Linked DNA regions of Homo sapiens. The protein of the gene in region 3 interacts with the protein of the main gene of each other region in a pairwise test. Each region holds a gene or a part of one and is shown on either strand. Other genes may lie near its edges.

Evidence for each region.
Region 1: the proteins of TMED8 (region 3) and APOL2 interact in binary tests that used the Homo sapiens proteins (3 or more experiments, as listed by UniProt).
Region 2: the proteins of TMED8 (region 3) and NDUFA12 interact in binary tests that used the Homo sapiens proteins (3 or more experiments, as listed by UniProt).
Region 4: the proteins of TMED8 (region 3) and UNC50 interact in binary tests that used the Homo sapiens proteins (3 or more experiments, as listed by UniProt).

The regions. Positions count from the first base shown.
Region 1 is NC_000022.11:36,224,837-36,230,484, forward strand, and holds the end of APOL2 (apolipoprotein L2), read right to left. Parts: intron 3,445-5,648; coding exon 2,568-3,444; 3' UTR 1,373-2,567; downstream 1-1,372.
Region 2 is NC_000012.12:94,971,920-94,980,748, reverse strand, and holds part of NDUFA12 (NADH dehydrogenase [ubiquinone] 1 alpha subcomplex subunit 12), read left to right. Parts: intron 1-8,829. UniProt on the Homo sapiens protein: Accessory subunit of the mitochondrial membrane respiratory chain NADH dehydrogenase (Complex I), that is believed not to be involved in catalysis. Complex I functions in the transfer of electrons from NADH to the respiratory chain.
Region 3 is NC_000014.9:77,373,500-77,382,948, reverse strand, and holds the start of TMED8 (protein TMED8), read left to right. Parts: upstream 1-5,854; 5' UTR 5,855-5,895; coding exon 5,896-6,013; intron 6,014-9,039; exon of another isoform or gene 9,040-9,258; intron 9,259-9,449. Other genes in the region: SAMD15 (sterile alpha motif domain-containing protein 15), read right to left, coding at 2,468-2,566, 3,842-5,530.
Region 4 is NC_000002.12:98,610,255-98,619,083, reverse strand, and holds the end of UNC50 (protein unc-50 homolog), read right to left. Parts: intron 8,310-8,829; coding exon 8,189-8,309; intron 2,878-8,188; coding exon 2,738-2,877; intron 2,653-2,737; coding exon 2,551-2,652; intron 939-2,550; coding exon of another isoform or gene 917-938; coding exon 780-916; 3' UTR 569-779; downstream 1-568. UniProt on the Homo sapiens protein: Involved in the cell surface expression of neuronal nicotinic receptors. Binds RNA.

The DNA.
Region 1 (5,648 bases), on a different chromosome or scaffold from region 3:
AGGACCCCAGGCCACAACAGGCTACTTTAGGCAGCATCATGGCCTACATCTTTGTGCTAAGAGTAATGGGAAGCCATTAGAGGGTTGGAAGCAGGTGCTCAATCAAACCTATGTTCTTAGGTGGGCATGGTGGCTCATGCCTGCAATTGCAGTCCATTGGAAGGCCAGGGTGAACAGATCACCTGAGCTCAGGAGTTTGAGACCAGCCTGGGCAAGATAGGGAAACCCTGTCTCTACAAAAAAAAAAAAAAATACAAAAATTAACGAGGCATTGGGGTACACACGGATGGTCCCAATTGCTCAGGGAGTCAAGGTGGAAGGATAGTTTGAGGCCGGGAGGTCCAAGATGTGGTGAGCCATGATTGTGCCACGGTTTGCCAGCCTTGCAACAGAGTGAGAGTATCTGAAAAAAAAAAAGAAACTATATTGTTAAAGCCCAACCTGGCCCAGTGTGGAGCATGGTCCAGGACATGGGAGGGACAGGGGCAGGGGCACAGAGAAGACCATTCTGGAAGTTCTTGCAGGAGTCTGGGCAAAACGTGAGGACAGACTGGATGGGAGTGTTTGCTGTCTGGATGTCTCTCTTTGTCCCTCTATTTTTCGCTGATCCTCTCCCAATCTGCACACAGGCCCCTCTGACACTAGTTAGCCTCGAGTGTCCCGTGTCAATCCCGGGCTCTGACTCACAGATGGAAACCACACCTGTGCTCAGCCAGAGCCAGACATGTACAAGCTTTCCCCGAGTGCCCCAATGGGCTTGGGGTTTTGAGGTCTCAGGGAAATGACCAGCTGGGAAAGTGAGAGTCCAGTGAGCGAGCAGAAGGGGTCTTGAAACTTCGCTCCCTGAGACCCTGGAAGAAGGATCATGAGGAAGGTTAAGTCAGGCACCCAGAGCCCAGGGGAGCCTCCATCGGCACCACAAAGTCACAGCCATCAGTCAGTGCTGATTGACTCAAGTCTCCAGAACACAAGATGGGGAGAGCAAGGTGGACCTGAGATATCACCTTTTCCAGCCCCCTTCTACAGCTGATGAGGAAACTGAGGCTCAGAGGGGTGAAGTCTCATGACCACAAGCAGGGTTGAACTCCTGGACACACCTCAAGCTTCCTTGACCTGTTCCTGGCATCTCCTTTCATTTTTCCTTTCTTCCCAAATTAACCTCTTTCCAACACAGCACTTCAAGTTCCCCTGGAACTTCATCGGTCCATCGGTGTCCCCTGGTCTGGAAGAGCACCGACCACTTGCCAAGGCCCCCACCACTCTGCTGCCATCACAACCACCATCACCACCATTACGAGAAAAACTTGAGACTGATGGCCCCCAAAGCTTAGAAGGAGCTGAGAGACCAAAGAATGACTCGAACAAGTCCAGCTTGGTGAGTAGGTGAGTTTATTGGGACTTACACACAGGTCAATCCTGGGCAGCGACAGGACAGCTCTAGAGATCTGTGCTTCCTCCCAATGCTAAACTGCTTTCATGCTAATCTTCTGACTGTTTACTTACCGGCTAAGAGCGATGGGACTGTTTTCATTGGTTGGTTCTCAGATACTCTCTGGGAAGTTTGGGTTCTCAGGGACACCTGCTCCTCAGCTGGGGATTGTGGCCATGGCCTACCACCTGCCTCTCAGGGTTCAAGCAGGGGACATGCACCCTTTAGTAACCTGGAGGGGACCCGTCACATGACAACCACCCCAACCACCATCATGAAGAAGCCACTGGCTGACTGTGATACACCCCCAGAAGGACAAGGGAGAGTGGATGCTGGAAAGACAGAGCGAGAGACCATCACCAGGGAAAGACTTTATTCTTGGAAGGACATCAAACCTGGGGGGGGGTCGGTAGTGGAGCTGCTGTTTCTTCTCCTGTATCCAACAGTTCTAACTCTGGTTTTCTCCATTTTCAGCTCTTTCTTTTCCTGGCCTTCTCATTGCTGGTTCCTGCAAGCTCCCCCTCTATTCTTCGCCCAATATATTCTTTAGTCCAAAGTAAACTACTTCTTCCCATTCCCCACACTCTCCAGTCCTCTCTCCTCCCTTATTGCAGGCTCCAGTGTTCCTGCCTTCTCCTTGGTGCACTTGCCATCTGCATTAACCCCTCCCTTGCTGTGCTCAGCTACACAAATGCCAAAGTCACTAACACTCAGTTCCATAAGCTTTACCTTGCCCTCCTTATCCCCCTAATAAAATGTCTGCATTTTGGCCAGGCGCGGTGGCTCACGCCTGTAATCCCAGCACTTTGGGAGGCCGAGGTGGGCAGATCACGAGGTCAGGAGATGGAGACCATCGTGGCTAACACAGTGAAACCCCGTCTCCAGTGAAAATACAAAAAAATTAGCCGGGCGTGGTGGCAGGTGCCTGTAGTCCCAGCTACTCGGGAGACTGAGGCCGGAGAATGGTGTGAACCCGGGAGGCGGAGTTTGCAGTGAGCCGAGATTGAGCCACTGCACTCCATCCTGGGCGATAGAGCGAGACTCCATCTCAAAAAAAAAAAAAAAAAAAAAAAAAAGTCTGCATTTTGTCCTGGCCTGTGCCCGGCATTTCTGCCCTGGTGGCTGCACTGCTCTGGGGTCATTGGTCTTGGCCTGGCTGCAGCATCTCATGGATCTTGGTGAGAAAGTTGAGCTTCCCCTCCAGCTCCTGAGCCCGCTTCTTCAGCTCCTCAGCTGACTCTGACTTTGCCCCCTCAAGCAAGTGCTTTGACTCATATGCAAGGCTGACCACATCCAGCAGAAGCAAGATGCCTCCAGTGGCTGCACCCACGATCATGGTTCCTCTGCTCATTGCCTGGGCGGGGCCTTCAACAACCCTCTCAACCTGTTCACCGCCTTCAGCTGAGATTCGCCCAATGACATGCGGGGGTGGGGCATACGCTCCTAACTGAGGGTTGGCTCTGGCTCGTCTGATGGCACGGATGTTCCTCCCAATCCCTTGTGTGACTTGGTACCAATTGTCAACTAAGGTAAGAACATTGGGTGTGTTCCCACCCACAAACTCCTTCATCACCTTTGCTACATTGGTGCCGCTTTGGTCCAAGTTGCGGGCTTGGGCTCGTGCCCGCAATTTGTTTACTAGTTCTACCACACTGCAGGTAATCCCAGCCACAGCAGCTGCTGCTCCCAGACCCATGCCAGTGTCCAAGAGCACAAAACTGATTCCTTCTGTGAAGGGTGCCAGACCCAGGCCGAGGAGGGTCAGGATGCCAGAGGTAGTGCCAACAGAGTTGGACACCACATTGGCAATGGTGGTGCCTCTGTGGACCTGCTCAACCTCCTCTGCAAGGGCACGGAGCTTCCTTATGTGATCCTCAAGCTCCCTTTTCAACCGAGGAAACTCTTTCAAAAACCACTGCCTGTGCTGCTGGTCTTTATCGTGGCGGTTTTTGTCCTTCATGACCATGTGACTTGCAAGCTTGTTCAGAGCTTTACGGAGCTCATCTGCCTCATCCCTGCACAAGGAAAGGTTAAAGGATTAAGAAATGCAGTTTCCCTATCTGTGAAATGAGCTCCATGCGATCTCTATCCTGTGTAAATTGCAGAGCTTTCACTATCAATCAAATAGAAACAAATTTTACAAATGGAATTAATTATCTTTCAAACTCAAACACATTTTGTTCATCATAGATATTCCTCAGTACTTATTCCATATGGAAATAAATATCTTAAAGGCACCTCAGATGCTCTTTCATGGTAGGTGTTTGATAAAGATGCCTCCTCACTCAAGGGCAGGTCAACACCGTGACTGCCAAAGTGTTTGGAGAGGGAAAACTCTGCAGATGAACAAAGAGCAGTGAGAGTGAGACAAAGAGACCTTATTACCAGGATGGCAGGAAAGTGAAGCATGAACTTTACCCAAAGAGAGGCCTTCCCTTTGTCCTCAGCTCCTGGGAAGTGATCTCCAGGCCCCTGGAATGTCCTGCCTGGTAGGAACATCTTTCTTTGCCTGGTGATTTGGCCACGGGACAGTATAGCGATGTGATGGATGATAGGGTTTGGGGCTATTTGGTGTCTTTCCTGACTTCCAGAGGACTTGGGGACTAAAGGTGTGAGATCTCAGGGAAGGGCTGGAGACTCTAGCCATGAGGGCAGCTTGTGATCCAGCCCCAGCAGATACTCTGGACACTAAGGCATGGGTTGAGAAAGAAGGACTTTCTCCTTGACCAACTCCAGCTGGGCTCTTCAGAGCTTCTTCTCCACTAGGCGCCGACCTTGGCCTTCCACACTCACCCACTGCTTTCTGGACTTGCACCACCTTGGCTCAGCAAGAATCTCCCCAAATCAGTTTAGGGAGGGTCCTCCCCGCTTGCTGTCTGAGCACCGTTTGTTATCTGATCATGCTCCTCACCCCCACCACTGGTGGTTGAGGGTCTGACCTGCCTTTGGCGAGAATCCTGTTAGGCCAGTTTAGCAGGAACCCCCCACTCTGGCGTCTCCTGTCAGTCCTGTTCCATCTCCCGCCCCCACCCTGGTGTTGGCTGTGACTCCCCCTCTGTCTTTACTATATTTGGAGCTGGGCTCAGTCTCCCTCCCCTGTAACAACAATCCTGAATAAAGGCTTCATTTCTGGTTTAATGTGATTCACAGGAATTTTTCCTTAACTGGGTGAGCTTCCCTGGTTGGCAACACCGCATGTGTTTTGTCCCACATTCACACAGGAGAACACAGCCTCCTGAGGACAATGAAGATTCACACCTGAAATCCTCCCAGACTCTGCCCTGTGTGTCTCTTCCTTAGGCTGATTTTAATCTGTGTTCTTTCCCTGTGATAAACCACAATCGTGCAATAGCAGTTTTCAGTGAGTTACGTGAGTCCTTCTAGTGAATTATAAAATCTAAGGATGATTTTAGGAATCCCCATAGATTTGCAGGTGGTGTCAAAGGTAAGGGTGCCCTCAGACATTGCAGTCTGGCTATCTCTGAGTACTTTGAATTCAAACAAAAACAAAACCTCAGAAAGACAGGAGATCACTTTGCCTGGCATCTGCTCCCTTCCAATGCCTCATGCCCTTTCACCTGGCTGAAGGCTACTGGGTGCGGCCACTGCCCCAGCTGACTGGAGTGGGAGATCTGGCTATTCATTCTGGCTCCACATGGACGCTCCAGCCACCTTACTGCCTCCTGACCTACCACCTGCACCCCCAACCTTCCAGGTCTCACTCGCAGGTGTCACCAGCCTAACTGATGCCTTAGCAGTGACAGCTTCACCTGTGTGCACAGCAAGGCCATGTGCAATTTTATGGAACCACTAGAAGACTCAAGACACTTTCAGAACCATCTATATAAATTGCTAATGCTGAAAAGACCTGAATTTGGTCAAGATGGTAGAGGAAGTGTTTTCCTCCTCGGTTGGGACTTTGTGAGTCTGCTCAGTACCCCTGAAATTACACAAATTGGCAGCAACTCATTCTACTTTGGAAATGGTCACTAAGGCATGCCATGGTAAGGAGCTTCTCTGTGTAGAAGAGAAGAAGGTCTGAAAGGGTAGTCCAGAACTCACCAGTTCCAAGGCATGGGGTGAGAGACACAGGCTACCATGACCCTGTATGCCCATGAGTGTTGGGATCATCCAGACAGGGAAGAAATATCCCTCTCCCACTCACATGTCCTCTGCAAGTTCATGACCTCCTTAAGTTTCAAGCCCTTGGTGCCTCTCT
Region 2 (8,829 bases), on a different chromosome or scaffold from region 3:
TTTCTGTTCATTTCTTAGTAACATGTCTTTCTCTCTCAGCATAGTTACACCAGTCTCTCCTCGTACATTGATTTTTCTTATTAAAATTAATTTACTGAAGTAATACATAAATACATCATTTAAAAAATAATAGTGTATGGTAAAGGGTTTCTTTTTTTTTTTAACAGAAAATAATTTTGTCCCTGAAAATTTTTCTGTGCCCAGGGAAAAATTAATAAATGGTTTTGCCCTTGAAAGGCCAATTTGTTTAAGATGCTTAACATCGTGGTGGTCAGCTGTTTTTCATTTGGCGTGATGTGTTCTAGAAGCCTTTGTAGAGAAACAGGGTGGCAGGTGAGGGCCATTACATGGAGGCGATAGAGAAGAATCAAGGATGATTCATAGGTTTGGGGCCTGAGTGGTTGGTACCATAATGCTGGGACCATTCACTGAGATGAGAAGACTTGTAGAAGGGCGGGTTGGTAGGGGTGGAGAATTAGAATCAGAAGCCTCTTTTTGGACATAGTAAGTGTGTGATACCTGTTGTGAAATCTACATGATTAGATATATATCAAGTAAACAGCTGAATATACAAATCGAGCTTAGGACAATGGTCAAACCTGCCAAACCAGCAAAGAACAAGGTAAGTAGCTAGCAAGGTAGGAGGAAAGGGAAGAAAGAGGAGTATTTCAGCCAGGGAAGCCTCGTTGTATTGATTGTTGCCAAGAGGTTGAGGAAGATGATGACAGAAAAATGTCCGTGTGATTTGGCAATATGAAATTCATTGAATCTACATAGAATCTGTTCTTGAAAGAAATGAGGAGAGATCAGAAAAGTTTGAACATTCTAGCAAAGGAGAGTGATCCACATAGCCCCTAGTAGACATGCACTGTCAATATTGGACATAGTTCCATTAATCCTTTTTTTTTTTTTTGAGACAGGGTCTTGCTCTTGTCACCCAGGCTGGAGTGCAGTGGCATGATCTCAGCTCACTGCATCCTCCACCTCCCAGGTTCAAGCAATTCTTGTGCCTCTGCCACCTGGGTAGCTGGGATTACAGGTCCCATGACCACACCCAGCTAATTTTTGTATTTTTTTTTTTATAGGGGTGGGGTTTCTCCATGTTAGCCAGGCTGGTCTCAAACTCCTGGCCTCATGTGATCCGCCTGCCTCAGCCTTCCAAAGTGCTGGGATTACAGGTGTAAGCCACCTCACCCCGTCCCTTTTTAATCCTTTCTGTGTAGTTGTGTTCATAACCATACTCCATTTTACTTGCTTTTTTCCATCAATATTATAAGCAATTTTTCATGTTATTAAAACAATCCTTATAATCACCATTAAAAGATTTTTTCTGATTATAAGAATATACAATTGCTATAGAAAATTTGGAAATCTGGAGAATTATTAATATGAGGTAGAAACAATTCTTTGGCCCAGAAGCAATACTGTTAATATTTTATTCACTGATTCAACAACTATTTGAGGGTCTGCTTTTGGGTAGAGAAAGAATGTTTTGGGGGTGTTTGTTTTAGAGGTGGGGTCTTGCTCTGTTGCCGAGGATGGAGTACAGGAGCTATTCACAGGTGCAATCATAGCACACTACAGCCTTGAACTCCTGGGCTCAAGCATCCCCCCTGCCTCAGCCTCCCATGTAGCTGGGACTCCACAGAGGAATGTTTTTTAAAGACCACAGTGTGAAAAACTGATTGTAGTTTATTGGTCACACCTTCTTTAGAAGAAAGCTTATTATTATAAATAACATATACCTACACATTTCTCATATAATGTATACAACATTTTCTGACTTGCTTCTCCCTCCCCTCACTTAATATGTCACAGACATTTTTCCTGTCTCACTAAATACTGTGTCAGTTCGAGTGTTTTAGTTTCTGTGGGGCTTTTGTATTTAGAAAGGATTGTTGGGCAATTTGGATTTAAAATTAATATACTATTTATTATAGTTGCAAATTTAAAAACCTAATTGTTTTTCATTCTTGAGGTTCAATTTATAAATAGGATAAAAAGATTAGTAAATTGAATTACTTTTTGCATAAAAATAAGGAACAATCATTTTCTCTTGTTCTTTGATGAATGTTCGGTAAACTCTAATGGAAAGGATTACATTGTCCTAAACAGTAATACCCATTTGCAAATTTAGTTAATACATCTCTTTAAGCAGTTTAGTCACATTTATAAATTGAACATATTTGATATTTGAGTTTTTTCAATTCTTCAAATCCCCAGTGCATAGGCAGATTAACCTATCAAGCAAAATGTTCCTAAGCACTTAAATGACTCTTGTTTACTCAAGCCCAAAACTTCAGTGTCATCCCCCAGTCTAATTCTCTAATGTCCAGTCTGTTAGCAAGTTCATCCTGCTTTCGTTTCTCCATATATCCCACATCTCATCACTGCCTCTATGACTGTTACCCTAGTCCAAGGCACAATTATCTCTTGCCTGGACATCTACAGTCACCTCCCAACTGGTTTGATAACATTCTTGCAGTGCACTAGCGTTCCCAACATGCTAAGTGATGAGAGTGCATATTTTTAAATGTAAATCAGACACATCAAGTCTCTGCTCAGAATGACCCAGTGGCTTCCCATCACAGTGAGAGTAAAAACCCCAACTCCTTCCATGCTCTGCGAGGCGTTATGTGATCACAGTCTGCATGCACTGTCCTAGTCACAGCCCTGTTGACTCTGACTTGGCCACATTGGCCTTCTTGCTTTTCCTTGAACAGTGAACATACTCCCAACTCAGTCTCTGCACTAGCTGTTTCCCCAGATTTGGCATGGCTCACACACCTTCACTTTATTCAAGTGCCCATCTGGTGGCTCTTCAGGTGGTCTAGTCTATAAGAGCCCTGTTCCCTCTCATACTCCATACTCTTCCCCTGCTCTGGTTTTTTCCTTGATGGCACTTAACTACCTCTGCTTAACATTTTTTTTATATTATTTAATTTATTGTATGTTTCCCCAAATACCATGTTGGAACAGTGCCTACCACATAGTATTTCTGCAATAGATTTTTGTTGAATGAATGGATGTACATATACATTTTACTTGAAACAAACATTATTTTTTGGGTATGATAATCAGTTTTCTTCACTTTAGCTGATCCAAAAATGGCATCTTCTGCTACTCCTTTATAGCTTTCTAATGAATTTGAAACTAGATTTACCTCTGAATTACATTGCAATTTCAACCTGTCCTTTTTAGTACTTTGACCCACTGAATCATTTGTTACAGTTTTGTGGGGTTTTTGGGGCAGGGGCGGAGGGGTGTTTTTTTTTTTTGACACAAGGTCTTGCTCTGTCACCTAGGCCAAGTGTAGTGCCGTGATCATAACTCACTGCAACCTCAAAATCCTGGGCTCAAGCTATCCTTCTGCCTCAGCTTCCTGAGTAGCTGGGAGTATAGGTGCATGCCACCACACCCAGCTAATGTTTTTGTTTTTGAGAGAGAAGGTGTCAAACTCCTGGCCTCAAGTGATCCTCCAACCTTGGCCTCCCAAAGCACTGGGATTATATGTGACAGCCACTGTGCCTAGCCTGTTACAGTCTTCTAAAATATTATTTCTCTAAATAAATTGCTAGCTGTCAATGGCAGATAATATTTTCTTCAAAGTAAGTCCTTCCTAATGTTTATTTTCTGCTCCAGAAAAATCAGAATATTAGGAGACTGTGTTCTAAGAAACTACAAACTGCATTAATTGGGTAGTTTCTCTTATGTTACAGAATGTTACTTTTCTTTATACCCTTTCTCTGTTAAAATGTGTTCATTATAAGCAGAAGACAAGATTGTTTTGATTTTTAAAACTCAGCTTTTATTTAACACATTTCACTGAGTATTCATTGCTTCATTTAATATTGATTCTAACATTTTACAAAGATGCCTTGTTGGAAAATTCCATATGTGGAATGTGGAAATAAACTATGTATTACTCTTGGTGAATGAGGAACTGCTCAGCATGTTCATTATAGAAAATTCAAAAAATAACAAAAGAAATAAGAATAGCCTGTTATCCCACCACTTGTAGAAACCACTGCTATTAATATTTTGATACACATTTGACCTTCAGTATCTGTGGGTTCTGCATCCATGGATTAAACCAACATTAGATGGAAATTATATCAGAAAAAAGTTCACAAAGTTCCAAAAAGCAAAACTTGGATTTGCTGTGTGCCGAGTATTATGTTGAATCCACATGAATGAAGTCATATGCAGACATCATATTAGGCATTATAAGTAACCTGGAGATGATTTAAAGTATACAGGAGGTTGTGCATAAATTATATGCAAATGCTACATTTGCATATCCACAAATGATCATTTGTGGATTTTGGCATCCACAGGGTGTCCTGGAATCAATCCCCCATAGACACTAGGGACAACTGTTTATTCTTATCTCCTCGATTTCTATGCATATATATTCTTTTGTTTTTGTTATTAATGTAATTGAGCTTTTTGAAGAAGTAGCCTGGGTTTGCAAGTTATTTTAACTTTTGGCAGCCTGGTTTTCTCACTTACTATATTTGGATAATAATATTTATCACGAGTTGTTATAAGGATCAAATAGGTTAATATTTGTAAAGTGTATAGATTAGTGCCCATGACTTATAAATGCTATCTATAAGTATTAAATAAATTAGGCAAATAACCCGCTTTTAAAACATATATGGTGAACATTTTCTCAAGTCATAAAATATTCTCTGTCTCTCTCTCTCTTCTCTTTTTTTAGAAATGGGATCCCCCGCTGTCCAGGCACGATCATGGCTTTCTGCAGCCTTGAACTCCTGGGCTCATGTGATCCCTGCCTCAGCCTCCCAAGTAGCTAGGACTACAGGTGCCTGCCACCATGCCTGGCTAATTTTTGCATTTTTTGTAGACATGGGGTCTCATGTTGCCCAGGCTGGTCTCGAACTCATGGCCTCAAGCGATCCTCCCACCTTGGCCTCCAGAAGTGCTAGGATTACAGGTGTGAGGCACCATACCTGGCCAAAATATTATCTATAGCATAAATGTTAATAATGCCTTAGTCTTCCATCATATGGATATGCCATGAGCTATTCCCTTTATTTTTGGTTTTGTTCTTTCCATTCTTTCACTGTTATAAATAAAGCTCTGATAAATATCCTTGTACATGAGTATTCATATCCTCATTTCCTTAAATGGAAATGGATCCACCAGGAGTATACATGTTTTATAAGTTTTTGATACCTGCTGCCAAATTGCCCTCTAGAAGGGCTATACCAATTTATATTCTCAGGATAAATATATTGAATAGTATATGAGTACTGATTTCTCTTTAAGTTCACTGATTCTGGGTTTTATTTTTTAAAATCTTTGCTAATTTAGCAAGTAAAAAATTATACCTTAATGTGCATTGCCTTGATTAAACTTCATTGTTTGCCACTATAATTTTTTCTTTGTTGACATCTCTTGATGTTTTTTGTCCAGTTTTCTATTGGATATTTGACTTTTTCTGATTTGTAATGATAGATGAACCTTTTTTCTGTATATTACAAATATTTTCCCCTGTTTCTTTTAGTCTTTAATCCTGTTTATAGTGTTTTAGGACATACACTTTTCAATTTTAAAAACAATTTTAATTTTTTGGGTACATAGTAGGTGTATATATTATGGGGTGAGATGTTTTGACACAGGCATGCAATATGTGATCATCACATCATGGAAAATGGGGTACCCATCCCTTCAAGCATTTGTCCTTTGTGTTACAAACAATCCAATTATACTCTTTTAGTTGTTTTAAAATGTACAATTAAGTTATTATAGACTATAGTCACTGTGTTGTGCTGTCAAATACTAGGTCTTATTCATTCTTTCTGACTATTTTTTTTTATACCCATTAACCATCCCCACCTCCCCCTAATCCCCAAACCAACCCCACTACCCTTCCCAGCCTCTGGTAATCATTCTTCTACTCTCTATCTCCATGAGTGCAATTGTTTTGAGTTTTAAGTATCACAAATAAATGAGAACATGCAATGTTTGTCTTTCTGTACCTGGCTTATTTCACTTAACGTAATGATCTCCAGTTCCATCCATGTTGTTACTAATGACAGGATGTTGTTCTTTTTTATGGCTGAATAGTACCCCATTGTATTTAAGTATCACATTTTCTTTACTCATTCATCTGTTGACAGACACTTAGGTTGCTTCCAAATTTTGGCTGTTGTGAACAATGCTGCAACAAACATCGGAGTGCAAAAGTCTCTTCGATATACTGATTTCCTTTCATTTAGGTTATACCCAGCAGCATCATTGCTGAATCATATGGTAGCTCAATTTTTAGTTTTTTGAGGAACTTCCTAACTGTTCTCTATAATGGTTGTACTAACTTACATTCCCACCAACGTGTTTGAGGGTTCCCTTTTCTCCGTATCCTCCCAGCATTTATTATTGCCTGTCTTTTGTATAAAAGCCATTTTAACTGGGATGAGATAATATCTCATTGTAGGTTTTTTTTACTGCTCCTTGTGGACCAGAGCGGTAGCCTTAATCTCAGCACTTTGGGAGGCCGAGGCGGGCAAATCACTGGAGGCCAGGAGTTCGAGACCAGCCTGGACAACATGGTGAAACCCCGTCTCTACTAAAAATAAAAAAATTAGCCCGGCATGATGGCATGCGCCTGTAATCCCAGCTACTCGGGAGGCTGAGGCAGGAGAATCACTTGAGCCCAGGAGGCAGAGGTTGCAGTGAGCCAAGATATCACCACTGCACTCCAGCCTGCGCCACAGAGCAAGACTCTGTCTCAAAAAAAAAAAAAAAAAAAAAGACCCAAGAGTCTGTTTTGCAAGTAAAACTCTCTGGTGTGGCAATCTGAAAGATATGATTTTTTTTTACCCCTTATTTAATAATAAAATAACAAGGGTTATATTTGCCTAGCAGACTATAAACATTTCCTTATTTCTTATAATTCTTTATAAACTGCCATAATGGGTATAGTTTATTATTTATTAATTCCCTGATTCTTGCATGTAGGCTTGCTAGGATAAATATTTTCAGATTTTGTGTATTGTGATAAAAATTATCTTTTCCTTTTTTGGAGCATTTTCCATTTCTCCATGAGCTCTTCACTTCCTCACTTAAGTAACTGAATAGGCATAAGCTTGGGACTATGGTTCCTTAAATATCATTTTAACCTTCCGGAGTCTTGACAGCAATTTTTTGAATAAAATTTTTCTTTAGTTAAGCTGACTCAGTGAGGTAAAAGTTAAATATTTCAGCTGTGCCGTAAGCTCACATAAAGCCCCTTGATAAGTGACAGCCTTGACTTTAACAGCTAATCCCTCCTCTGAGTGGTTAGTGGAGCCTGGCTCACCACTATCGTCTCATAAGGGCTTCAGCGCTCGTGTGCTCATATGAATGGTTACAGTTTATTGGTCCAGGTCACTTTCACTAATCCCCAGCTTCCTTTAGAGGATGTAAGACAGACACTGACCTAGCTTGTACAGCCTTCTGCATTCTTCATTGTATAAGCTGATCATGATACAATTATCTTTAGACATAAACATAGCAACTGTAATCATATTTTATCTCTATTCAGACTGGTTTTTAGTCAGTTACCTAGCTATATCTATCAATTACTGCTAGCAAATATTCTTAGGTTTACATAGCAACAAAAATTTTTTCTCATTAGCTTTAGTTTTAGTTATTCCACTGAAACATCCTCCTCTTGTCCTTTTCTCTGCAGCTAGATAATCACTTTTCCCCCCACCCCCGGGCTGCAGTTCTGTGGCTGTCTTCTCATTTTCTTTTCCCCCAATAAGGTCATCTCTGTCTTGTGAGCTCCAGGTCTTAGAGGCTGGGACAAATTCTGTCTTCCCTTCTTTCCCATGTAAACCCCTCAGCTTAGCTTCCTGCACTCTGTCCCACAAACTTTGATTCCTCCTTTCCCTGTCATTAGCAGCAGCATCGGTGGTCTCTTCCCTTTCAACTCCAGGTATCCAGCTTTTAGGTCTGATTTCTGGAACATATCCTCTTAAATTGTTAAGCACTTATGACTGAAATATTTGTGAATTGGGGGTCGATTTAACTTTTTTCTCAAGACAGGGTCTCACTATGTTGCCCAGGCTGGTCCTGAGCTTCTGGCCTCAAGTGATCCTCCCACCTCGTCCTCCCAAAGTGCTGGGATTATAGACATGAGCCACTGTGCCTGGCCCTGATTTAATTTTTTAATATAACAAGTTGCATATTCTCTAGTGTTTACACTCACATGCTTGAATTTACAATGCATCAGGCTCTTCTCAGCAGGAGCCTCATGGGTTTTAAACTAAACCTTCATGAGCCAGAGTAACCTGAGCATACTGAAAATCCAGAATCGGCCTCTAGCACCTAATAGTAATACTGTATTTTTATCAGTTCTAAAATGCATTTCCACGTCTAAAATTAGGATACATATTATAATCAGTAGTGGCCATAATTTATTTGGTAGCATCTTTTCTTTCTTAGAGGTAGATAAAATCATGGCATGTCTGAAAATGGATAGTGTCAGATTTGATAAGATACAGTAATGGGCCGGGCATGGTGGCTCATGCCTATAATCCCAGCACTTTGGGAGGCTGAAGCAGGAAGATCCCTTGAGCTCAGAAGTTTGAGATCAGCCTGGGCAGCATAGTGAGATCCTATCTCTACAAAAATCTTCTGAAAGTCAGCCAGGCATGGTGGTGGCATGCTCTTGTAGTGTTAGCTATGTAGGAGGCTGAGGTAGGAGTATCACATGAGCCCAGGAGTTCGAGGCTGCAATGAGCCATGATAGTGCTACTTCATTCCAGCCTGGGTGACAGAGTGAGACCCTGTCTCCAAAAGAAAGAAAGAAAGAAA
Region 3 (9,449 bases):
AGGTCAGGAGGTCGAGACCAGCATGGCCAACATGGTGAAACCCCGGCTCCACTAAAAATACAAAAATTAGCCAGACATGGTGGCACGTGCCTGTAATCCCAGCTACTTGGGAGGCTGAGGCAGGAGGATTATTTGAACCTGGGAGGCGGAGGTTGCCGTGAGCTGAAATCGAGCCACTGCACTCCAGCCTGGGTGACAGAGCAAGACTCTGTCTCAAAAAAATAAATAAAATAAATAAAGGATCATTTCCACATCATAATGTTTATAGTACATGGAAGTTTATGGTAACAAAAATGTTCACTTAGGCAATACAGTTAAATAGAACATGGATTGGGAAGTCACACAAGATGGACTTAAATCCTGGCTCTTAAACTTGTTATCTGAATATAAGTCGGGCGTGGTGGCTCATGCCTATAATCCCAGCACTTCTGGGAGGCCAAGGCCGGCAGATCACTTAAGGTCAGGAGTTTGAGACCAGCCTGGCCAATATCATGAAACCCTGTCTCTATTAAAAATACAAAAATTAGGCTAGGTGCGGTGGCTCACGCCTGTAGTCCCAGCATTTTGAGAGGCCGAGGCAGGCAGAGCACGAGGTCAAGAAATCAAGACCATCCTGGCTAACACGGTGAAACCCCATCTCTACTAAAAATACAAAAATTAGCTGGGCGTGGTGCCACGCGCCTGTAGTCCCAGCTACTCGGGAGGCTGAGGCAGGAAAATCGCTTGAACCCGGGAGGTGGAGGTTGCAATGAGCTGAGATCGCACCACTGCACTCCAGCCTGGGCAACGGAGTGAGACTCGGTCTCAAAAAAAAAAAACCCCAAAAAAACAACAAGAAGAAAAAATTAGCTGGGCATGGTTGCGCACACCTGTAGTCCCAGCTACTTGGGGGGCTGAGGCAGGAGAATCGCTTAAACCAGGAGATGGAGGTTGAAGTGAGCCAAGGTTACACCACTGCACTCCAGCCTGGGTGACAGAGCGAGACCCTGTCTCAAAAAAAACAAAAACAAAGACAAAAAACAGAAAAAACGTATTATCTGAATAGCTTGTTAAGTTGTTTCACCTTTCTGGGCCCCAGTTTTCTATAAAATGGGAATTAGTGAAATAATACATATAAGAGGCCCCAAACACAGTAAGCTCTCAGCAAAGCATAGCTATTAGCAGAATTTAAGAAAGTAAACGCTCAGTTAGGACTGTATGTTTAATAATTTAAAAAGTTTCGTTATATCTTCTTGCTAGTAAAAGGACTCAGGTATTAACAAGCATAGTTTTCTTATTTCTAAACCATATGACTTATGGAATTTTAGGGTTATAAGGCCTGTTGAAGAGTCATCTAGGGAAGAGATTCCAGGGCCTACCCAGCCCTAATGAATCAAAATCTCTGGAGGATGAAGCCTAGGAATGTATCTTTTTCAAAAAATCTCATTTGATTCTGAAGACGACCCAAGTTTGGAAACCACTGAGGTGGTACATTTCTGGGCATGGGTGTGCTGAGCAAAACCATGGTTATGCCAAGAACTGTCCATTCTTGGAGGGTTATTGGGGTGGGGTACTAAAGGAGAGGTTACACGTGAGATTGTTTGTGATGCTTTGTAAATTGCAAAGCACTACAAATGGAGGGTACTGTTATGCAAAGGAGAATAATCATGAACTGTTGGTGCTGGAGATTTTAGAAAATTGATGCTCAGAGTGGTTAATGTAGCTTGTTTCAAAGTTAGGCAGCAAAGCAGGCAAAATACATATGGTGTTATATAAGTGCCAAATGGGTGTCAGAGACACAAAATGTCATGAGAACTTGGGATGGGGGCTACTGTGGGCTGGGAATGTTACAAAAGACTTCTTGGGGAGATGCAAATGAGGAACTGGTCTTGAAGGATGATTAAGATTCATATTAGTAATACAGAGGATGGGGGAACTGAGCGAAGACATAGAGAGAAGAACGCACCAGGCAGGTTTGCGAAGGTGTTAGACCTGGTGGTAGGCTGGAGCACAAAATTCATGTGGAGGAGTGGTAGGGGAGAGAACTTGTGGAGGGCCCTAAATTCTAAACTAGGGAGTGGAGACTATCTTGGTAAGCAGAAGGGATCCAAAGAAGGTTTTTGAATAGTACATAAGTAGGTGGAAAGTGAGAGCATAAAAGCAGGGCCCTTGAATCCAAAGGGTCCATTGAGACAGGCTAAAAGCGGGAGGCCACTGTGGTGTTCTAGGCATGAGGCCATAAGGTCTGAAAAGTGGGAATGAAGAAAGCCAGACGGTGTAAGTGCCACAGGAGCAATGGACAGTTCTTGGAATATTTATGGGGATCAAAGGAGAAAGAGGAGGCAACCACCGTGAGCCTGAGGAACTGGAATTATGATGACACCATTGACAGAAGTGGGAGGCCAGGCTGGAGGAAAAAAAGGTTGGTTTGAGACAGATGGTGGCACTGTTAACAGTGCTCTGTAGGGAAACTTTGGACACAACTCACCTTCATGTCCTCAAAGTTTGTTATCCCCATCTGAGGGAGGTTTGAGCAGTTGACGTGAATGAGTTTTCGGCCACTGATGAAGTTTGTGATAAAACACTCCTGTCAATACAACAAGGACATCACTTAAAAAATGTACTGCAAATAGAAGGAAGAAAGGGAGGGAAGGGGGAGGAAGGGAAGAAGTCGTGTTTGTTCTACCCTGAGAAAAAAATATTATTTTGTTTTTTCTTTTTTAGAGACAGGGTCTCACTCTGTCATCCAGGCGGGAGTGCAGTGCTGCAGTCATAGATCACTGCAGCCTCGAACTCCTGGACTCAAGCAGTCCTCCTGCCCCAGCCTCCTGAGTAGCTTAAATTTACTTTCTATCCCAATAACGGCACAATTTTTCCATGTAAGCTCTTTATTAAATTTTACACTGCTCTTTAACTGTTTTTTTGGGCATGGTACAACCAGTGCTTCTTCATGTCTCAATTACATTTGTAAGTATAGTAGGTACAAAAGGTTTCAGATCTTGTATTGTTTTGTGGTAGCCTTAAACCTAGTTGGCATCAGTGAAACAAGAGGTTTACACTGACTTTTTACTAAAACTAGTTTTGGTTAACTGGCTAACTTGAATTAATACACTTAAGTGCTCATGATACAGGTGACATATTTGGGGCAGACACTTTAAAAAGTAATAGCACAAGTTCAAAGCAAGGGAGCTGCCACTAAAATAACTTGACAAAGTACCAAAAAGCCTACCTTGAACAAAGTCTACTTAAAAATACAGTTTTCTATGAAAGGAGGTCTAAGGCCGGGCACGGTGGCTCACGCCTGTAATCCCAGCACTTTGGGAGGCTGAGGCTGGCGGATCACGAGGTCAGGAGATGGAGACCATCCTGGCTAACACAGTGAAACCCCGTCTCTACTAAAAATACAAAAAATTAGCCGCGCATGGTGGCGGGCGCCTGTAGTCCCAGTCCCAGCTACTCAGGAGGTTGAGGCAGGAGAATGGCGTGAACCTGGGGAAGGTGGAGCTTGCAGTGAGCCGAGATCGTGCCACTGCACTCCAACCTTGGCAAGAGCGAGATTGTGTCTCAAAAAAAAAAAAAGAAAGGAGGTCTATATACTCTTCTTGGTCTTTTATTCAAGGATTGCAGAGAAGTGTAATCACTGGAAGAGGAAAAACAAACCGATGTGACCCTCCCTTCCTCTCCCAAAATACAAATATACATCAGTGGCAAGGCCAAAATTAAAATCCAAGTTACCTCTACCACAGTCTAGGACTTTTTGATACTCCTTCCGGTAAAGAGGTAAGAGCTCAGGCCAAGTTAGAAGGAATAAGAAGTAGACGGATGACAGCATGTGATTTCAAAACATCTTATTTTTGTATACCTTGTATTGAGGGAAGCCTAGCTGGCTAATCCACTCTGCAACTTCCTCTGGATCCCAATTAAGATGCTCAAATTGTAACTCAGTCCCTTTTTCTGGCTGGGTTTCGTCATCTTCAGAGACCCGTTCCTTCAACTCTTGGGACAAATCTACAACTTCCTTTTCATGAACGAACTCACTTAATTCTGTCTGAGACTCTGAGGGATCTGAGTATGAGCATTCTTCACTGACATTAAGCAATTTTTGGAGTGGTTGCAAAAACTCATAATGTGTACCAATTGATTCTTCACTTTCTCTGAGAGATCCTAATGCGTAATATTCTTTTCTAAATTTGTCACTTAGTGACAACTTTCCTCTTTTAGGCTCACGGTGCTCTAGCTCATCGTTTCCTACAGAATACTTAGACTTTATTGGTTCTGGCCTGTCTTCCTTGGAAAATTCTACATGTGTCTCCCTTGGTTTGGTTTCATCTGGTAACTCTAGAATTTTCTCAGTTGGCTTTGTTTGTGTTTTCTCTTCAACTTGTGGGTTGATCTCCTGTGGTAGCACTGGACCAGTCTCCTCTGGTGGCTGTGGATTTTTTTTCTCATTTGACTTTCTTATCTCTTCTGGACTTTCTGGTTTCATCATTTCTGATTGTTCTAGAATTGTTTCCTCATTTGTTTTTCTTGATTCTTCCTCAGGAAACTCTAATTTGATCTCTTCTAGTGGCTCAGGAACGTTCTCATCAGTAGACTTTCTTGGCTTGTGGTCTGGAAAGTCTGGTTTAGTCCGCTCAGGTAGTTCTGTCCCTTTCTCCTCAGTTGCCTTTCTTTGCATCTCCTCTGGAACCTCTGGTTGAGTCTCTTCTGGAGGCTCTAGACCTGCCTCCTCACTAGACTTTCTTGGTTCCTTCTCCAGAAATTCCAGTCTAGCCTGCTCGGGTGGCTCTGTCCTTTTCTTCTCAGTTGACTCTCTTTGTGTCTCCTCTGGAGTCTCTGGTTTGGTCATCTTTGGTGGCTGAAGATCTGTCTCTTCAAGTGATTCTCCTAGTTTCTCACTTGGAAAATCTTGTTTGGTCTGCTCTGGAGGCTCTAGACCTGTCTCTTCATGTTGCACTCTAAGTGATTCCTCTGGAACCCCCGGTTCAGTCTCCTCCTCTAGTAATTCTAAATTTCTCTCTCTGACTGTGGCCCCCGAAACCTCAGACATGGTTTCCGTTGGTGGCACTGGATCTGGATCTGTTTCCATAGCTGACTCTAGGAACACATCCTCTGTAACATTTGGTTTAGCCTCCTCTGGTGGCTCTAGGTCTGACTCTTTATGCGTTTCATCCATAGGGGCCTCCAAATCTTTGAAAAACTCTCCCATCTCTCTGGATGTTTCCGACTTTACCTCTTGGTGTATCCCTGGTTCAGTTTCGCTTGGTACGTCTCTCTTGGACTCCTTGGCAATTCCTTCCTGGGACGTCCCGCCAGGTTTCAGCTGCACGTTCTTAGCACTGTCTGGCTCCCCCTCTTTGAAGTCCTCTTCCTCGGTCTCTGGCTGTGGCTCTTGGTAAATCTCTGCTGGTAGCTTCGAGTCTGCCTTTGCCATGGTGTCTGGTTCGGCATTTTCATACAATTTATGAAGTCCAGGCAGTTCAGGCCTCTCAGGCTCCAGCTCTCCATCTTCATCTGGGCCGGAATCATAATCCTCCGGGACTTCAGCCATTTGCAGCTTAGCAGACGCGCCGCGGCTTCCTAGCAACCCCAACTTCCGATAGCGTCTCTATGGATACCACGATTTCCGGCAGTGTCTTCCTGACTCTTCCCCAGGTTTTGTTTGTTCTTTCAAGCCCTGACTTTAAAAATCGTCTGTCACAAGCACGCAGTAACCCTCCCTGCGGCCTCATCGCCAGCCTCAGCGGGCCAGAGCTCCTGTGGCCGCCCCTGGGTCAGCTAGCTTTTCAAGCGGCCGCCGCGCCGCTTCTTCCGGCCTGCAGGCTGCGCTCGGCTGTGCTCGGCGCTCGCTCGGCCTTCGGCTGTTTCCGGAGCCACTCGCGGCTGGCAGCGGAGAGCTCCGTGCGCGGGCTGCAGATGTCTGACCTGCAGGCGGCTGAGGGGCCGGGCTCCTGGAGCCCCACAGCCCGCCCAGGGTCGGCTGGCGGCGTCGGGGACTGCCAGGGAGTGGAGGGGAGCCAGGCGGCCGCCTCAGGTACGCAAGGCCGGGGCGCTGGCGGGTGGGTGCCGCCCGGCCTCAGGGCCCCGCACCACGGCGCGAGCCTCCGCCGCGCTCTGTCCTGGGCTTCCCCGCGGAGCGGACCCACCTCGGCAGCCCCTTCGCGCGCGGGGCCCCTTCCCCGCCGCTGCCACCACCCGGGCCCTGGGCTCGAGGTTATTTTCTACTCACTCCTGTTTCGAAATGCCTTGATTCCTGCCCCGCTTCCTTTCTGAGATCTGCCCAAATGGTAGTGACAGGGTGGCTCTGCCCCTGGCGCCTCTTCAGCTTCAGTTTCAGCTTCAGCCGGGGTTCGGGTCCCACCTCCGTCTGCTAATCACATCTAGACTGCCGACCCGAACCCTACTGGCCTCGCCGCCCCCTGCTTCTGGCTCCCCACCCTATCCCCATCTCAGTCCCCTGCCCCAGCCTTACCACGCGCCTCTCGGCCCCCACCCGGGTTGGCAGCCTTGCCTTCCTCTGCCAGAAGCCCACTGCGCCCTAGCCTTCCTGCACATAGGCCCCCTGGCCTTGCTGCCATCCTCTCCATCGCTTAGAGTGGGAAAAATGAAAAGCAGAGTTGAAATAGGTAGTGTCTGGGGTCTTTTGCTTGAACACAGTAGCCAAAGCAAGAGCAGGAATTAAAAATTTGGCCTACCTCCCTCATTCTCAAGACCCTCATCCTCTTCTTGTCCAGGACGACGTCTCCATTTCTACTAACGCGAGTTCCTCCGTGTGTATTATTTCAGTGTCCAAAGACAAAAGAGTCCATCCATCACACTTTCTTCTTTCAGCCTCCTGAACACCACACACGATGCAACTGAAAGGATGCTCTTTTGAAATACGAAAGGGTAGAGGGGAGAGAACTTGTCTTATTTAAGTAGCAAATATAAATTAATTTTCTAGGTCTGAAATTAAAATAGACACCATAAAGTATAATGGTTGAGGCACTACTGTGGAGCCAGGGTGCCTGGATTGGAGTCTGAAACGTCAGTTTCCTCATCTGTAAAATGTGATTACTAAAAATATCTGCCTCATAGGATTATTGTGAGGATTACTTGAGCTGCTTTGTCTAAGGCATTTGGGGTATAGTCCATGGTACACACTATACTCGTCTCAACCATTGTGACAGTAAGGTCTCTTTTTGTTCAGTTGAACTTCCTGTGCCGCCAGAGGTGTTCTTGGATGTATGGCTTCCAACATGGTGCCTTTTTCTGTCTTCTACTCTGATCCCAAGTATCTTCCCTCTCATAATGCTGCCTTATTCAAACACACACACAACTCACCCAGCTCTTTCCCATGATTTTATATTCTTTTACTTTAAAACACCTGACAAATTTTGCCTTTTTTTCTTACGAACTCTGCTTTGTATTAAATTAAAAATCGTTGGCATATATTTAACATAGCAGTAGAAATTCTAAGCATAATGTCTAAAAGACTAAGCAAGTAAACACAGAAAGGTAAGTCTTATAACACTTGTCCCTTGCATGCGCCAGTATTTACAAATTAAGCATGTTTTTACTTCCCCTTTAGGTTCTCATGTGTTTATGGCAAACGTACCCACGCGTTTTAGATAGATGAGTGTGTTTTTTTTTCCCCCTGACATCTAATTCATTCCTGCATTCACTTCCTCCCAGGACATTGGTAGAGATGCTTACTTTCCTTCCTCTTACCCTCAGAATGCAGGGTGATAATTTTTTTTTTTAATGTCATGTAGGGGTTTATTATAGTAGCCCAGAGCAAGCTCTTCCTCTTGAGGTAGGATTTGTTGCTAATAAAATAATAGTAATGATAACCTACAGATATTGAATGCTTATTCTGTGCCAGAGGTGGAAAAAAATTTATATTTTCTGATTTAGTCATGTCAACAATCATTTTCTTCCCATTTTACAGAGGAACAAACTACAGCTGAGAAAGGTTAACTTACCTGTTCAAGTTAGCGCAAGTTTTTACTGTCTGGATGAAATTGTCATCTTGTTATGATGAAGTCTATAATTGTTTGTTTTTATTGGCCATGAATCAAGTATTGGTACTCGCAGACAGGTTATGGTCTCTGTCCTCAAGGTGTTTTCAGTTTGATGAGATGAGAGATCCATTTCAGGGAGAAACAATTAACAATTCAAAACATTATATAATTGGGCGTCTTTTATTACAATTCTTTATCTACTAAGAAACCTGCTTGGAGTTAGGAACGGAATCTCTCTTGCTTGTTTATTTATCTAGAGCCCTTGATGTTGTGTTTTAGAGGTTTCGCAAATATTTGCTGAGTTTGATGGTGAGAGAAAGTCTGAATGCAGAGATCTGGATGAGCATCTAATGAATGTGAAGAATTAGGGTTGAGATAACCAAGAATGTTCCTTGGGTTAGAGCAATGGTTTTCAACCAGGTACGATTTTGTATCCCCAGGGCATGGCAATGTTTGGAAACATTTTTGCTCGTCACAACTGGTGGCAGCTATTGCTGACATCTAGTGAGGATAGGCTAGGGATGTTTGCTAAACATCCTGCAAGGCACAGGGCAATCCCCATAACAAGGAGGTATCTGGCTCCAGATGTCAGTGGTGCTGCTTTTGGGAACGCTGTGTTAGAGTTAAGCTGGGCTTCCAAAGCAGTGTGGAAATACTATATTTGGCCTGGACCAGAGGCTTGGGCGTAAACCCCAAAAAACTGCTTTAAACTTGGAATTCGTTTGATTGGATCCTTCTGCCATCTTCCTCTAGAAAATGATACAATGAGTAAGCAATAGAGCTCTAAGAAAGAATGAAATTTAATGAGATTTCTCTCACCCTTTCAGAGAGAAAACAGCAGTAAGAAATGGAATTGGATATTCAGGTGTTCTGTTAGTCCATTTGGAATACCTGAGACTGAGTAATTTATAAGAAAAGAGTTTTAATTGGCTCATGGTATTGCAGGGTGTACAGGAAGTGTGGTGTTGGTATCTGTTTCTGGTGAGGGCCTCAAGAAGCTTAGAATCATACTGAAAGGGGGAGCAGGTATGTCACATGGCGAGAGTTGGGAGTGAGAGAGAGAGAGACGGGAGGAGGTCCCAGACTCTTTTAAACAACCATATCTCAGGTGAACTAACTGAGTGAGAACTCACTTATCATCAAGAGGATGATGCCAAATCATTCATGAGGGATTCATCTCCACGATCCAGTCACCTCCCACCAGACCTCACCTCTAACATTGGAAATCACATTTCAGCGTGAGATTTGGAGGGAACAAACATCCAAGCCATATCAGGTATTGTTGAGTTAAGGGTTTTGGTTTTTTGGTGTATCTTATTCCTTCAAAGCAGGAATGTGTCATTATCCAGAATAACCATAACTTGTTTTTTAAAAGTGTTCTCTGCAGAGAATACCTATTGAGTGTCTTCATGTTTGTTAGCTGAGGTTTTGGTGAAAAGGAAGGAAAGGATTTATGTTCTTATGAAC
Region 4 (8,829 bases), on a different chromosome or scaffold from region 3:
TTTGTTAACACTGAGACAATACTAGTTATCCATTTTCAGTTAGAAAAAGGAGTGGATCCTCTATTGGGTTTTGTAAAGTCTCTAAAGAAAGGGGAAAAAAAAGCCCTACTGTTAAGACAGTGATGACCAATATTATGCTGATGTTCACTTTATTATATGTACTATACAGTTCCTAAAATAAGAGTAGCTACCTGGGCCTCTTTGATCTAAAATATTTAGGGGCTATAAGTAAGTTTTTAATGTAGAAAATGCTGCTAATGATGCTTAGGGCCTGAAGTACAGTGACTCCCGTTTGACTGACACTACAGGTTTATAGAGGATTCCGAAGGTTAGAAGGGATCTTGTGGCTTATGTAAGTAAGTATTTAAAATACAGCTAATTAGAAATGGAGATTATGCATCTTTGTCAATAGGAGAGCGATGGGGCTGTATGATTATTCCCTTGTTCTCCAACTAGATGATACTCTTTCAAAAATAATTCATATTGTTTTATGTTTATGTTTTCCCCATGCCATTAGCATTTTACATGTAGCTCTTACATTTGCAAATATTAGAGTGAACACACATGCTTTAGTTTAAAAAATATTTATTATAGAAATGTACATTTAATTAGTTTTAAGGAATGTACCTGACCACAGTGTTAATATATATTTCTTCAAATTTGCAAACTTTACACCTTTAAGATATCTACAAAGATGATAGTTTATTTACAAGTTTTACAAGAAATGATCACTTCACAATACTGTTGACACAGTTACGATTGAATCTTCTTCTCACTTTTTATTTCACTCTGTACTTATAGAAAGAACAGAGAGTATGGGTGAAGTTCCATCCCAGTGCCAGGGAAAGCCCGTAGAGCAGAATCAGAGGTGCAAATGGATACAGAAGAATTACTGTATTTTTCAAAAATGGCAATGCTGGAAAAGAAAGGAATCCAAACTGATTTAAAAAAAAAAAAAAATAAATGACTAATAAATGAACATTTTGAAAGACAGCTTACTTCAACATGTGGGGTGGAAGGGAATGCATATTTTGAATCAGTAAGATGATGCTATTTATGCCCAGAACTAGACTACTCTTCCCAACCCCTCTGTGCTGTTTCCTCCTTGTCTAGGGCTGGGAAGAAACCTAGGAGAGGAATTATTTCAGCACAGAGGCTGAGTGGGACATCATACACTGGACCAAGAGAGGTTAACAATGAGGGAGAAATGTCACAAATATTCATGAAAACAGTGGTGAATTTAAACTTGTGACTGCCTCAGAAACCTCTAGGAGTCCAACTTAAAGTACAGAGATGGATGGCGTTATAGGAAAACATCTTTTAGCTATTTGAGATTTTCCAGTGTAAAGCATTATACCCCCACTTTAAGAGGGTGTGAGCTCAACTAGTAGCCCAGGCTTCAGAAAAGAACTGAAACTCTTAAATATAAAAGTCTGGCTCCAAATATTGATGTTTCTTGCTCACTGCTTAGTTAGCGGGACCCTACCCCATGCATCCCGACCTAAGTATTTCTCATATAGGAAGTTCTTAAACAAACTGAGCTGTACTCCAACTATTCTAAGTGGTATAGGTCGTTACCAGGAGTGTTCAAATAACCACTTAGAGAAACCACAGTGCTGCAGTGTTCTCATCACAAAACACTTTCAAAATTCATTAGAAATGACACAAACATCTCCCCTGGACTAGAGAAAGCACTCCCCAAACAAGGCATTACAATGAAGGGGTTAAGTGTTCCCTGACAAACCAGCCAAGGGGGGAGAGAACCGGGGTGGGAATAACTCCGGAGCCAGGCATAGTCAGAGCCATCTGTATTTACAGTTAGGCCCTAATCATCTACAGTAACAGGAAAGGAAGGGGTAAGAAACGTACAGCGCAGTCTCTAGATTTTATTTGGCTTTATTTAATGGGATCATTTCTTAACATAAATGAAAAATAATATATGTTCCTCATTCATATTAAGAAAAATGAACTGACAACAGGATTTAACAGTAAATCTGCAAACATGTCCTGAGGACAATAAATGTTGGGCCCGATCTTCTGTGATTGTCTACAGAACCATACGGTAATCATGAAAACTAAGAATGGGGCAAAAAGTTATGATTCAAAAGGCTTTAGAGAACTTCAGTTCATAGACCTATGTAACAAGATGCTGGGCCCCACCTTTCTTCGCTCTACCCTCCTGCTGGTAACCCACAACCTGAAAGCATGGGAGAAGAGGAGTGAATGGTCTTGGATTCCTGCAAGTCATCTGGAGATAACCAGTATGGTTTAACATGTTTCCTTGAAAGTATAAAATCTGTTATATACCAGCTAGGCCATTTTCTAGCTGCATGACCATGGGTAAGTTGCTTAATCTCTCTGCCTCAGTTTCCTCATTTGAAAACAGAAACAAACCTGTGTAATTGTCATGAAGATTAAATGAGATAATGCACATAAAATACTTAGGATAGTGCCTGTAAGTGTTCCATAAAAGCAGCTGTTTGTACTACTGTTACAACTTTCCCCCTCTTGCTATGTTCTCAACCAAAAACATTTAAAAAAATTACTTACCACTGTATCCCAGGAAAGTTACATAGATATAATAGCCAACTGCAACCAACCATAAGGTATTTCCAACTAAATATCCAATAAATGTGTCTGTCAGGATAACATCTGCCAGAAGAGACGCAGACCATGAGTCCCTTTACCAATGCATGCAATGAAGACTTGGATAATACTCTAATTAACTGCTACTTACGGTTGATGAAAAAAAGCTGGATAAAATGCAAAATGACCAGGAGTGGATAAAAAGCATTGAGATGCACATCAAAAGCATAGCCCCATTCCACATCATAGTCTCTGCTCTGTCGTTTCACTAAATACTTGTTAGAGATGAACCTAAGAGCAAAATTAAAATTTCTTTCATAATAAAATGAATTCTGTAAATGTTTACTGACGACTTTCTATGCGGCAGACATTCTAAATTCTGGAGATATACCAGTAAACAAAACAGACAAAAATCCCTGCCTTCCATCTAGGAAGGAAGGCTGACAATGATACACCTATGTCAGATGGTATTATGGAAAGAGAGAAAGCAGCAGAGAAATGTGGAGAATACAAACTTGAGATGCAATTGTACATATGAGGGTCATAAAGTAACATTTGGGTAAAGACCCAAGGATAGTGATGGTGCCTGGCAGGCCTGAGGAATGGTGAAAAGACCAGTGTCTGAAAGAAAAGGAGCAAGAAATGAAGCCAGAAAAGAAACAGGGTTGGGCCCAACATCAAGTCACACAGGCTCCATGTCTTACGAAGCCTGTGGCCGTTTTACAATCTTTGGCTTTTATTCCTGGTGACGTGAGAAGCCACTGTGGAGTTCTGAGAAAAGTATTTGACTTAAATGCCTTGACAGAGCCTCCCTGGTGGCGGATCTGAGAACAGACTCCAGAGACAAGACTGGCAGCAGAGACCAGTTAGAAGGCTACTGCAAGGAAGAGATGAGCAGAGGGGCTGGTGGCAGTGGAGGTGCTAAGATGTGGCACACACGATACTCTGAAGGTAGAGCTCCTGACATTATTGGATTGGAGTATGAGAAAAAAATACTCAAGGATGACTGAGAGATTTCTGCCTTGAACAAATGGAAGATGGAGCTGCCTTTAATTGAGGTGGGGCTGGCTGTGGGAAGAGTGGTTTTGAGGTGGGAAGGAGTGTGCGGAAGTTTGAATTTGGACCTGTTATGTTGAAGATGCCAACTAGTATGGAGTAAGAAGTTGTATACAATGTCTAGAGTTTAGAAGACAAGTCCAAACTGGAAATATAAACTCATCAGTGTGTAGATGATATTAATATTTAAAGCCACGGGCCTGAATGATGTCACCAAAAAAATGAATGTGGATAATGAACAGGCCCAAGGCCCAAGACCTGGGTCAACCCCCTATTAAAAGGAGGATGAAATAGTAAGAAGCAGTTAGGAAGAGTGACGCATCCAGCCATAAGAACAATTATTCAAGTGTATGTCACTGTTCTACAACATGGCCTACTAGTTTTTCAGTTCAATGATGAATAAAAAGTAAAATATCCAAGTAACAGAAAAGTAAGATCTTCAAAGAACAAAACTTGTATTATAAACATATATTGGAAATTCAATGTATTTTTTAATGTATTATTTCATTTCATCTCAAGGGTACAATTAAGAATACGCTATTCCGTCACTGGGGATAAAAATGGAAAATAAACAGAGGTACAATACTAATGTTAACAGTCCCTGCATTTCGTTATCTGAAAATGCCAAAACAATACTGAACAAACTAGAGCTTACCAAGACAGTTTCCTTTTTAGCCAAGAATGTGTGCCATTCAAATTTTATGGAATCAGTATGTAGCTCGCTCCCCAAGAGCGCCCTTTCTGTAGACGTTCTCTGCTGCCCCTATTCTCCCGCTTATCCCAAATGGGCGCTTTTCAAGCTTCTGGCCTCAGTGAGAGTCTTTCCTCTGAAAGACAGATGTGCCTTCCGAGAGCACTCCAAGGCACTGTGGTTTTCACCTCCCAGCTCCATATTAACGCCAGTCAGAGGCTCATCATGGCCCAGACTCTTGCCTCTAGGTCTAGAGTCATCAACCTCAGTGTCTACTGACCTTCTTTTCACTCTTCAGGAAGCTCCCTGAACTCAACAGGCCAGCAAGGGCTGCTTCATCTGCATCTGCTGCTTCCTCAGTCATCTAAGCCAAAATCTTACAGGTCATCCCAAAGGAGCCTCCCACCCACTCCCTCTTCCTGATCCCCCCTCATACCTTGTTATCTCAGGAAGCTCTCGAATCCATCTCTCCTCTCTATTCCTATCACCACCATACTATCTGGGCCTCCTCTACTCCTACGCAGACCTCTGCAAGTGTATCCAGCCTTGCCCACTCACTACTCCAACTTTTGCCTCCTCCACTGCCATGGAAAAGATAGTGTGAGTTTGACATTATTTCCTTACTTTAAAGCCTCAAAGCTCCCCACCTCCTTTTGCCCCCAACCCACACATGCAGTCTATGAGATAAAGTCCAATTTTTTTCCTGAATGGCATGAAGGCCAATTTCTCTAGTCACATCTCTTCCCCAGTGACTCGGTGTCACCCTATGCTCCCAGACCTAGTGTGCTGTTCACACCTCTATGCCATTGCACTTGCAATTCCCAGCACCAGGAGTCAACTATTCCCCATCTCCACAAACCACCACCTTATGCTGGCTTCTGTAGCTCCTCTGTGATGGTCATCATTACATGTAGTCATTTCTCTTTCTAGTTCCTCACACAACATAGGTTCTCAAAAATACACTGAATCCCTTTCTATTTAATTCAAACTATGATACAGACTCACATGAAATGTGCTAAACTCCAGGCTGATTTGGTCCCCTTCTGTGCCTGATATTGTTTGGCTGTGTCCCCAAAATCTCATCTTGAACAGCAATCCCCAGAATCCCCACGTGTCAAGGGTGGGGCCAGATGGACGTAATTTCCCCCATGCTGTTCTCGTGATAGTCAGTGAGTCTCACAAGATCTGATGGTTTTATAAGCATTTGGCATTTCCCCCACTTGTACTCACTCCATCCCGCCACCCTGTGAGGAAGGTGCCTGCTTCTCCTTTGCCTTCTGCCATGATTATAAGTTTCCTGAGGCCTACCTAGCAATGCAGAACTGTGAGTCAATTAAACCTTTTTCCTTTATAAATTACCCAGTCTCAGATATTTCTTTATAGCAGCATTGAGAACAGACTAAGACAGTGGCCTCCAGAATTACTGCATTCAGGGCAGAATGCTTGTTATGAATGAAACTATTCCTTTGAAAGTCTTATTTATTGAAATTTTAAAACACACCATTTGTTTTTCATGAATTTCTTGGTAATGAATACGTGACTTACATTAGTATTAATTCTAGGCCAGATTTTAGAATTTTATATTAACAGTGGACAGCATTTATTGGCTAACTAGCACATACAAAAGCTCTGCTGTACTAGTCAGAAGTTACAAAGGAAAATACAGGCATATGTCATTTTACCACACTGCACTGTACTGCGCTTCACAGAAACTGTAGTTTTTAAATTTTTACGTATTGAAGGTTTGTGGCAACTGTGTCCAGCAAGTCTGCCTGTGCCATTTTTCCAGCAGCATATGCCCACTTCATGTCTCTGTGTCAGCATTTTTAAGCAATAAAGCATTTTAAATTAGTCTGTACATTGTTTTTTAGAGCCATAGTGCTATTGTACACTTAAAAGACTACAGTACAGTGTAAATATGATTTTAATATGCACTGGGAACCAACACATCTGTGTGACTCAGTTTATTGTGATATTTGCTTTACTGCAGTATCTGGAATGGAACTAGCATATCTGAACTATGCCTGTAAAAGGGTGGTATTGGCTGGGCGCGGTGGCTCACGCCTGTAATCCCAGCACTTTGGGAGGCTGAGGCGGGAGGATCACCTGAGGTCAGGAGTTTGAGACCAGCCTGGCCAAATGGCAAAACCCTGTCTCTACTAAAAGTATGAAAATTAGCCAAGTGTGGTGGTGTGTGCCTGTAATCCCAGCTACTCAGAAGGCTGAGGCAGGAGATTCGCTTGAACCCGGGAGGCGGAGGTTGCAGTGAGCTGAGATCACACCATTGCACTCCAGCCTGGGTGACAGAGTGGGACTTCGTCTCAAAGAAAAAAAAAAAAAGGCTGGTATCAGAAGTTATAGTTGCAGAGTTTTGCTTAAAATATTAGTAACTACCAAATATTGAACACTTAACTGTGTCAGGTAATTTTCATAACATAATTATCTCAAAAATTGGACAGAATAGGTAATTAACTAGATTTTGTAAAAGAAGAGACTGGGACTAAGAGTTTCACAGATAACTAAGTTGGCATTTGAACCCAGGTCTCTCTGCAACTAAAATGTTCTCCACAATGACCACCATGTCTACCCAACCACTGGTCCTCTACTGAGATCGCTAGCCACATCCCCTGCCCTTCATCCAGCATGCCAACCACACAGGAGGACTTTACCAAACACCAGATTTATCCTCAGTACACTGCTGTTGCTAAATCAACCAAAGTCAGACTGAGAACCCTTCTGATAAAGCCCGTGTGTGTGTGTGGCGGTGGGGGGGCGGGGGGGGCGGAGGGTGTGTGTGTATGAGAGAAAGAGAGAGAATTTTATTCTCAGTAGGAAGGCATGAGAAGTTTAAAAAAAAAATCCTTCTTTTTCAAGTATACTTCATTTAATGCAAAGATTCAAAGTAAGACTCCACAAAATAACCCTTTAGATCTAAATGGATTTAAACACAATGAATATCAAGAAGTGGTCTCTATTGACAAATGCAGAAAACCATGCTATCATCCAGACAACTTAAGCAGAACTGGCTAAATCTGTAATATTTTTGCAAAACCAGGCATTTTGTTAGTATGCAGAAAATAAATCTCGGGACCCCAAAATCACTAAGCCAAAGGGAAAAGTCAAGCTGGTAACTGTGTCAGGCAAACTTGCCTCCTATTTTATTCCTAAGATAGCTTATCTTTACAGGTGTGGGACAGAAAGTCCTCCTTCTACTCACCTGAGACAAGTGTTTATCTGATTGCTTCCTCTGCCCCATTGTTTATGTAAAAATGCAGACTCACTGAGCCAGATTAAGGCATAAATGACTATTCCTGTACCTGCCTCTCACAAGTAAATTGTGTATTCAGTGAAAGGCAGATCAAAGACTCAAAAGAATGCAACCATTTGTCTCTTATCTAACTGTAACCTGCCTTTCCCCACTTTCTGGATTAAAACAATGTACATTTTACACATATTGACTGATGTCTCAAGTCTCCCTAAAATGTATAAGAGCAAGCTGTGCCCCGACCACCTTGGGCACATGTCATCAGGACCTCCTAAGGCTGTGTCACAGGCATGTCCTTAACTTTGGCAAACTAAACTTTCTAAATTGAGACCGATCTCAGATATTTTGGGTTCAAAACATAATTATTTCAATTATTTGCTACATTTGACAATATTATAAACCAGCCTTTATAGTATTTTCTGATATAGGTGGCAACACAGGAGGGAAAATTGTAATAATCTTGGCAGTCAAAATTGATCATTTAGTAACTCTACCTGGGTTTCAATTTCCATCTGCTGCTATTGTACCTCTGAAGCAAACAAATGGAGATGCTACAGCAGTATCTGAAAAACCAAAGTTATGGTACTTACCACATTAAAGTTGCTATCAGAAGACCAACGCCTACACAATCTATGAGTACAACCCAAAGGAGAAGCTTTATTGTCTCAAAGAATCCCATGTCCAGCACAAAGCCAAATCCTATAGTGGACACTGAAAGAAAGATTCACAAGATTCATTTAGGGACTCTGCTAGGTTCTGGAAATACAGGACACATCCCTTGCCCTCCAGATGCCCAGGCTAGTGGGAGAGACAGGTCTTTAAACAAAACTCCCAAGATGTGTGAACACTACCTTGGGACACAGCGTGGCCACTGAGAGAGTTGAAGTTTCCTGAGGTGGGCCCTTGCCAGGCTGATTCACCACGGTGGCCTCAGTATTTAGAACGCCAGTGTAGAGAAGGCACTAACATAGTTTAAGTCCAGTTAAGGTGCAAAACACCCTATAAACTTCAATATCTTACCCACTTCAACACCCTACAGGTAAATGAGACCCTTGCATTATGGAATTGGAGAACTTCAGTTTCTCAGGTTCCCATCAATACCTTTACAATTCTCACTGTGGATTTGCCTGTGAAATGCAATTTCCAGTTTCATATTCCTATTCACAGTCAGCTGACATTTGGGTACCGATTCAAGTACTTAAAAAGATATGGAGTGAATCTTGTCCCCTGC